Linked DNA regions of Homo sapiens: region 1 is linked to region 2. The links come from fine-mapping of genetic effects on gene expression. A gene starts in region 2. The other region holds a variant in brackets. All regions are shown on one strand. Distances are between the middles of the regions.

Region 1 (4,536 bases), 25 kb after region 2:
CCACCCGGTTTTGTGCTTGAAACCCAGGGCCCTGGTGGTATAGGCACATGTGGGAATCTTCTGGTCTGCGGATTGCAAAAACTGTGAGAAAAGCATAGTATCTGGGCCAGACAGCACAGTCCCTCGTGGCTTCCCTTGGCTGGGGGAGGGAGGGCCCCAGCTCCTTGCACTTCCTGGATGAGGCAACGCCCCACCCTGCTTCTGCTTGCCCTCCGTGGGCTGTACCCACTGCCTAACCAGTCCCAGTGAGATGAACTGGGTACCTCAGTTGGCAATGCAGAAATCACCTGCCTTCTGCGTTTGTCTCCCTGGGAGCTGCAGACCAGAGCTGTTCCTATTCGGCCATTTTGCCAGATCTCTGCTCCGTTATAATTTTATGGGACCACTGTTGTATATATGGTCCATCACTGGCTAAAATGTCATTATGCGGTGCATGACTATATATATCTGTACACACACAAAATATATATGTATGTATACAAAGACTAGACATTGTCTTATTACAATAATACAACTTAAAGAGATTTATGACTTTTCAGACTATATTTTAGAACCATGGCTGAGATCAGGGGTCTGCAGACTTTTTCTGTAAATGGCCAAATAGTAAATAATTTTTTGCTTTGTGGGCTGTGCAATTTGCTGGATGTACCTAACTGCCTTTGTAGCAAGAAAGCAGCTAAAGACTAATTTGCCAGCAGGCCATAGTTTGCCAGTCAGCTCAGATCTCTGAATTGAGCTGGGACATGTTCTTGGTTAGGGAGATCATTTGCCCACAGATGACTTTCTTCTGAAATGAGTTAGATCACTTCAGTAAACTTGTTTCGGTTCCTTTTATTAGATTGAGTCCCATGCAATTGCTGTTTTTATAGGTAAAAAATGGCCTAATGTTGGCACTTTCACATAGTCAACCAAAAGTTTAAAAATATGCTGTTTGGCTGGGCGCGGTGGCTCACGCCTGTAATCCTAGCACTTTGGCAGACCGAGGCAGGTGGATCACCTGAGGTCAGGAGTTCGAGACCAGCCTGCCCAACATGGCGAAACCCCATCTCTGTTAAAAATACAAAAATTAGCCGGGCATGGTGGCTAATCTCAACACCTCCTCCCTTCTCCCCACTCCAGTAGTCCCCAGTGTCTACTATTCCCATCTTTATGTCCATGTGTACTCAATGTTTAGTTCCCACTTAAAAATGAAAACATGTGGCATTTGATTTTCTGTTCCTGCATTAATTTGCTTAGGAAAATGGCCTCCAGCTGCATCCGTATTGCTGCAAAGGACATGATTTTGTTCTTTTTTATGGCTGCATAGTATTCCATGGTGTATATGTATCACATTTTCTTTATCCAGCCCACTGTTGATGTGTATCTAGGTTGATTCCATGTTTTTGCTATTGAGACTAATGCTGCAGTGAACATACAAGTGCCTGTATCTTTTTGTTTACCACCCTTTCTATTTTATTGAAGGTCTCATTTGTTCTCACTGCTTAACTATATATATATATAATTCCCATATAATATTTCATTCTAAGCTCTGATAAAAAGTAAAATGAAAAAATATAACATGAATTCTTAAGTGCCAGCAATTTCTATTCCAAGCACTTTACATATATTTCTCATTTAATTCTTATAACAATCCATTTACTTCATTATTCGTATTTTACTGATGAGGAAACTAAAAGAGAGATTAATGTAACTTGCACGAGGTCCCACAGCTAATAAAAAAAAGTTCTTAGGTTCAAACCTAGACAGTCTGACTAGAGACCCAAGCTTGAAACAATTTTTTATTACTACAGTTTTAATTACCTGTTGGAAATTTTGGAAAACTCTGATGTTCTTGATCATTTCAGATTCAAGATGTCACAGATGAAATGTGTAACCTTCCCACTTAGAGAACTGCTTCTTCTAATTGCCCTTATTTTTCTGGGGCAAAACTGCTTAATCATTATTTACCAAGTTCTGTAGATATCTGCCTTTATAGCCATTCTTACACTAATGGCTTGGTCCAGGCTTTTATTAGATTATGTCTGGAATATGGAGAGATTGTTCTGAACTCTCTGTGTTTAGTCTCTCTGCTAAACAGGTCTCTACAATCTGTACCATCAATCTGCCTTTCTCTTCTTCAGCCTGTATTTGGAATAGTATTTCCTTGCCTCCTGCTGTTAAAATCTGTTTTTCTTCAACATACAGTTCAAAGGAAATTTCACTCATGGTACCCAGCACATCAGAATTTCAATCCTATTTCTGTTATTAATTAGGTGTTCGATTGTTAGCAGGAGAGGGGGAGACCAGCTCCCTTACAAATAAAGTTCATGTGATTTAATATATAGTCTTGTAATAACTATTTTAACTTCTCAGATATTTTTATATGCACTTACTGATTATTAGTCACATTTCAGGTAAGATTGCTACATAAAACTATAAGCACTTAATATATATTTAACAATGAATGAATGAATGAATGA[ATGAC/C]TCACTTTTGGATAAGGGCTTGCAAGTGTTGGATAGTGTGGTGTTATTTTTTATCAACATTTGCTGGTTCCTAACTTCCGTAGCTCTCATTACAGTCTTGTTACAGTGTTGGGTGTGTTAGGCTTCAGGGACAGGCCTCTGACCTTCTGCCCTCCTTTGACCTGCCTTGAGACTCTGAGTGTTTCCCTGAGTTCTGTGAACCACTCTGGCAAATTAATCGAGCCCAAAAAGGAGTCTTGGGAACCCCCCACTTGAAGCTGGTGGGTCAGAAGTTCTGGAGACCCTGACTTGCAACCAGTCTCTGGTCTAGTGGGGGTGAGGGCACAGTCTTAGGATCTCTACAAAAAAAAGAAAAAAAAATTAGCCAAGTGTGATGGCATGCACGTGTGGATCACTTGAGCTTGGGAGGTCAGAGCATAATGGCACTGCTGCACTCCAGCCTAGGCAACAGAGCAAGATCTTGTCTAAAAAAAAAAGAAAGAAAGAAAAACCAAAAAGGGTAAAAGTATAACTGGTCTTGATAAGAAAACATTTTTATAATAATAATAGTTATTCAAATAATAGTTATACATGTTAATTGTAGCAAATTTGCTGCAGAAAACTATCAGAAACTACAGTAAACTGTCATCCATGATCCCACTGCAGAGAAAACCATTGCCGACATTTTTGAGCATTTCCTACCAGTTCCCCCCTTCCAAAGTTGAATTATTTATAAACCGTCACTCTGAGGAATGTTGATTGTGTTCGTAAGAAAACTCATGGCTTAGGAGCCAGAGTAAGCAGGACTACTATGTTAAACAGCAGGTTTGACTAATATATTTTCTTAATTGCATCAAACACTAGTGTTATATTAAGTCAAAAGTCTTCACAGATTATTTTTCTCAAGAGGATTTCAGTGCTTCAGTGTGCACATTAATATCAGTTCCACTTGCTTTTCAGTGATGTCATAGTAATGAGACGTTATAAGTGAATACAAATCTACCTCTAAAGAGATTATTGATTTGTTTTATTTTACTTAAGATTTGAATTCCAAATCCAGGACACAGCTGAAAATTTAAATACTGTATAGTGTAAAAAGGAATAAAGTATTCCTTTTTTTTTTTTTTAAGACAGATTCTTGCTCTGTTGCCCAGGCTTGAGTGCAATGGCGTGATCTTGGCTTACTTCAGCCTCCGCTTCCCGGGTTCAAGTGATTCTTCTGCCTCAGCCTCCCAAGTAGCTGGGATTACAGGTGCCTGCCACCACGCCCAGCTTATTTGTATATTTTTAGTAGAAACAGGGTTTCACCATGTTTGCCAGGCTGGTCTTGAACTCCTGGCCTCAAGTAATTCACCCGCCTTGGCCTCCCAAAATGCTGGGATTACAGGTATGAGCCACCATGCCGGGCCTCAAGTATCTTTTATGAAGAAATTACTTGAGCCTATCCTTTTGCTAAATAAGAGTGAAAACTGATAGAGGCTGTAGTAGAATAATGGCCTTCCAAAGATGTCCATGTCCTAATTCCTGAAACCTATGAATATGTTACTTTCTGTTGCAAGAGACTGTGTTCAAAGAGACTTTGAAGATGTAATTAAGTTAAGGATATTGAGATGGGGATATTATCCTGGATTATTTAGGTGTGTCCAATATAATCACATAGGTCTTCTTAAGGGGAAGGCAGAAAGGTCAGAAGAAGATAAGACAATGTGATGACATATAGAATTAGAGAAAGATTAGAAGATGCTATGCTGCTGGCCTTAAAGATGGAGGAAGGGGGACCACATGCCAGGAAATGTAAGTGGCTTCTAAAAGCTATAAAAGACAATGAAATGGATTCTCCTTTGTAGCCTCCAGAAGAAATGCAGCCGTCTGACAACTTTATTTTAGGACTCTGACCTCCAGAATGGGAAGACAGTAAATTAATTTTGTTGTAAGTTACTAAGTTTGTGATCATTTTTTATAGCAGCAGTAGGAAATTAATACACAGGGAATATATCTTTCTCATTCTTGACGTTTCCTCCTATGTTAAAGGAGCTCAATTAGTTTAACTCCTAGTCTCTCTCTACCCTCTCATTTCTTTCTAGAGGAGGAGTG
Region 2 (4,000 bases):
TCCTGACCACAAGTGCTCCGCTTGCCTCAGTCTCCCAAAGTGCTGGGATTATAGGCTTGAACTACCACGCTCTTCCTAGTGCAAGCCATTTAAACATTGTATCCAACAGCTAAAGAAAGAATTCATTCCACAGGCATTTATGAAATATGAGAGACTTGACTCCTGTCCAGGAGAAGCATCAGCAGCTAGCTCTACATTATTTTCTGATACTATTCCTACACTGTGCCACCGTGTTTCCTTAGCGACTTGTGAAGAAAAAGTGATTATATGAAGTGTAAATACTACACTTCATTAATGGCTTGGAGATACTGTGTATCTTTCTGTAATTTTACCCAGTTAAGTGAATAAAAGCAACAGGCCCGGCCGGTAGCCATTATTCTGACTTCCAGGTGTGTTCCTTGGAGGACTTTAGTCGGCCTCAGATTGAGCTGAAGAAGATATTAGTTTACTGTTCTCTTGACTTAAAACTTCATCTTGTTGGAACAAACATTTTCTAAAATACCCCAAGAACTTTACTATGGGGCATAGTAACATTTGAAAGTCATTTCGCTTGCCACTTTATTTATTCCTTGGTGAGAAAGATAATCTGTTCTTTTCAGATATTTTATAATGTATCCTTCAGTTGTGAATTAGCTATCTTTGTTTCATTTCGTTCATTGATGGATTCAACATTCATTCAGGACCTAGTTTGTATTAGGCACTGTGCTAGGTGCTAAGGCTGCAGAAATGCGTAAGGGAGGAGCAGCTTTGAAGCAGCTCGGCACCTAATGGGGAAGACAGGCAGGTAGATCGTTACAGCCAGAGAGCAGTATGCCCCTTAGGAGAAATGCCTCATTTGGTAAGATTCAGGAAAGCCATCCCAAGGAAATAGGTCAATCACTCATGTTTGCCAAACGCTAATTTTTACCCTTCTGAGGAAAGCTGTAGACTCCTCAAAAAAACAAACAAAATTTTGCACATAATCTCAGGTATTTGCCTATTCCTTGAAATCCAAATATCTCAGGGTAAAAGTCTAAAGACATTTAATGTTTTCAGTCCAAATTAACCCTCTGTAGCTTGCCACTTTTCCTATTCTAAAAGTATAATTTCCAGGTTAAGGTGAGTATTTTGTACTGTTAATATTCCAGAACCTCGGCCGGGCGCGGTGGCTCATGCCTGTAATCTCAGCACTTTGGGAGGCCGAGGCGGGCGGATCACGAGGTCAGGAGATCGAGACCATCCTGGCTAACACGGTGAAACCCCGACTCTACTAAAAATACAAAAAACTTAGCCAGGCGTGGTGGCAGGCGCCTGTAGTCCCAGCTATTCGGGAGGCTGAGGCAGGAGAATGGCGTGAACCCGGGAGGCGGAGCTTGCAGTGAGCCGAGATCGCGCCACTGTACTCCGGCCTGGGCGACAGAGCGAGACTCCGTCTCAAATAAAATAAAATAAAATAAATTCTAGACTCACCCCATCTTTGTCATCATACAGATTTTAATTATCACCTCGAGTGTTAACCTTTTAATTCTTTGCTAGCCTATGTGTCGCAGTTGTAATTAATAATTCGTATTCTGCTGTTTTAGGAAAGTTCTTTTAAGTTTTGGAGTCACCTTTAAAAAGAATGAAGTTTGAATTTATTAAATTATCTCCTACTAGTAGTAAATAGTTTTGCCTTCCTTTTTGTTTTTTTCCTGAGACTTTCAGGATCCGGTTTTACCTTTTACTCTTGAAGATTCATCATAAACATTATGGATATGGATATGTGCATTTGAGATTGGTTATGAACGGTTGTTAACTTAGACCTCTTTAAACCTTTAACACGGGAGTTAAATACAGCGGGCGAACGCTTTCCGCCTAAGGAGCACTGGTGCTAAGGGGCCGCCCCAGAAGGCCCGGCAGGTCCGGGGGTGGGGGTGCTCGGAGGGAGCCGGGAGGGCCCCGGGCCAATGCCTTCCACTTCCCCACGCCTCAGAGAGCTCACACTCAGCTCCTCGTAATGTTCTGACCGGTTTGGTGTTTGTCATTTCACTTTATTAAGTAAAGAGGAAATCGGGAAAGGAGGAATAGAGAGGGTCCCCGAGTTCATTCAAGAGCAGACCGAGAGATGCTCCGATCCCGAGTCGGGCCGGTGGCGGGGTCAGGCCGGCGCCCGAGGGGGGCGAACGCGGACGCCAGGTCGCGCGGTTTAAATCTCCCGCCTCCCGCAGCGGGAGCCTGACACCTCCACGCACTGGTGCGGAGGGGCACTGGCTGCCGGAGGGCCGGGAGTCGGCGCGGGGCTCGCGGGCGGTGGCCGGAACGGGTGCCGGGACGGATCACCGTACGGCCGAACGCGACCCGAGGAGGCGGAAGAGCGGCGCCGGTAAGCTTCTGCTGCCTCCTGTCCGCCCCTATTCCCCCTCAGGCGGCGGTCAGGCCCGGAGACCAAATCCCGGGTTCCCATGGCGACGCCGGGAGGCGGGGGCGCGGCGGGAGGCTCCGGCCACACGCGCGCGCGCGCGGCTTCTCGGGGCCTTGCTGGCCTCCTCGGTTCTCTGGGGGACCCCGGCCGCTGCCTGCGGCCTTCTTCCAGGCGAGGCCCTGCTCGGGGTTCTTCCGGCCTCCCCCCAGGCAAAACCCGCAAGGAGCGGTTTCTGGCGTGGCTGGGTCCCCTGCGGCGGAAGGGCGCCTCCCGGCCACGCTCGCTGTAGTGAAGGAGCGCGGCAGCCTGGGGCTCGTTTGGGTGATTTCCCTCGGCGGTGGAGGTCGCTCCTAATAGAGGCGGCGGCGGATCACCCGAACAGCCTTCAGGTGCTTCCCTGCTGACCTCTTTTTAACGTGGTGCTTATTTTTATTTCGCTATTATTTTGTAATGGGAATGTCTTCCTTAGAAACTAATTGGCAACCGATGGATAAAAACAAAACATAGTAAATGTGCAGTTTGAGCTGAACTGCAGAATGCACGGGCCCGCGAGGGGCTCCGCGCACAGATCCTGCTCCTTAGGCCGGCAACCCGACCCCACGGCACAGATATGGCTCCTGGAAACGCGCGTCAGCTGGTCAGGTGCCCAGGTGATGTCAGTGGTCAGATACCTGATGCTCTAAGGAAGACGGAGAGGGGAAAGCGGGGAGTCCATCCTGGCAGCTCACCCGCGATGCTGGGGCGTTGCCAGTAGAGGGGGTGGAATCATTTTTCGTGTAATAGATGATCTTGATGCACACAGCATAAAAGCTGTTATAAACTATGGGTCTCTGTAAAATAGATTGTTGGGAAGGTAACATTTTTCCATGGTTTTGATTTTTCCCAAAAGTATTTATGTATTGATTTATTTGGTTCTGACTCAGGCGACGTACTGTAAGACGATATTACTTTAATCATCTTCACATCAGTATTTATGGAATAGCCACAGGTGCCTCATCCTTTAGTAGGAGTTAATTATACATTTACTGGCCGAGTAAACATCTCCGAATGGTATGTATGTATTTTTATGTGACCAAAATTTTAAATCGTTTAGTATTTGTTATCTGTGCCTATCATACCCAGTATTCTTTGAAATCTCTTTATTTAATAGTTCAAAATGATTGTTTATCTAGTCGTTGAAACAGCTATGTGGAAGGCAGTGTTCTAATTACCAGTTTAATTTTAGAGTTAGAAGGGTGCTCAGAGATCAGCCAGTCCAAAGAGGAAAAATTGCAAATATGAGAACTGGTGGAAAAAGTAGGATGCCATATTTTTATTATAAATATCATAAAAATATAAAACAAAGTTTATACCAGTTATGGAACTAGGACCAGATATCAAAATATTAGATACAAAATAGATAATATACTGTCTTGTTCTACTATACTGCCAAACTTGGTGATTTCATTGTGTGATTCTATATTTACATTTTTTCTGTACTTTTATACTTTAGCTTTTTCAGTACTCACTGCGCTTCCTTTAAAATTTTATTCTTTTTATATTCTTTAACAACAACAGATGGGATATGTGAGTTTTAAATATATCTGTAACTGGAAAGATTTCCTCGTTCGAAGTAGATTT

Which allele goes with the higher level. Positions count from the first base shown, and alleles are read on the strand shown. Sizes are in standard deviations (SD) of each study's normalised expression.
With allele ATGAC in place of C in region 1, the expression in caudate of the gene that starts at base 2,194 in region 2 is higher (small effect, 0.20 SD a copy in GTEx).

The links. PIP is the estimated chance that this variant, and not a neighbour inherited with it, causes the effect.
Region 1: its variant is the best candidate, but not a certain one, in a credible set for the expression of ICA1L in caudate (GTEx, PIP 0.88).

What each region holds. Positions count from the first base shown.
Region 1 is chr2:202,844,660-202,849,195 of GRCh38, reverse strand. The region is part of intron 1 of ICA1L (islet cell autoantigen 1 like); the gene reads left to right. Among named protein-coding and RNA genes, the nearest start is that of ICA1L, 25 kb to the left of the region's middle. The variant ATGAC/C (reference allele first, on the strand shown) is at 2,460.
Region 2 is chr2:202,869,960-202,873,959 of GRCh38, reverse strand. ICA1L (islet cell autoantigen 1 like) reads left to right here and starts at 2,194. Exons shown (of 13, transcript NM_001288622.3): 1 at 2,194-2,341. RefSeq lists silencers at 1,882-2,011, 2,072-2,121, 2,162-2,651.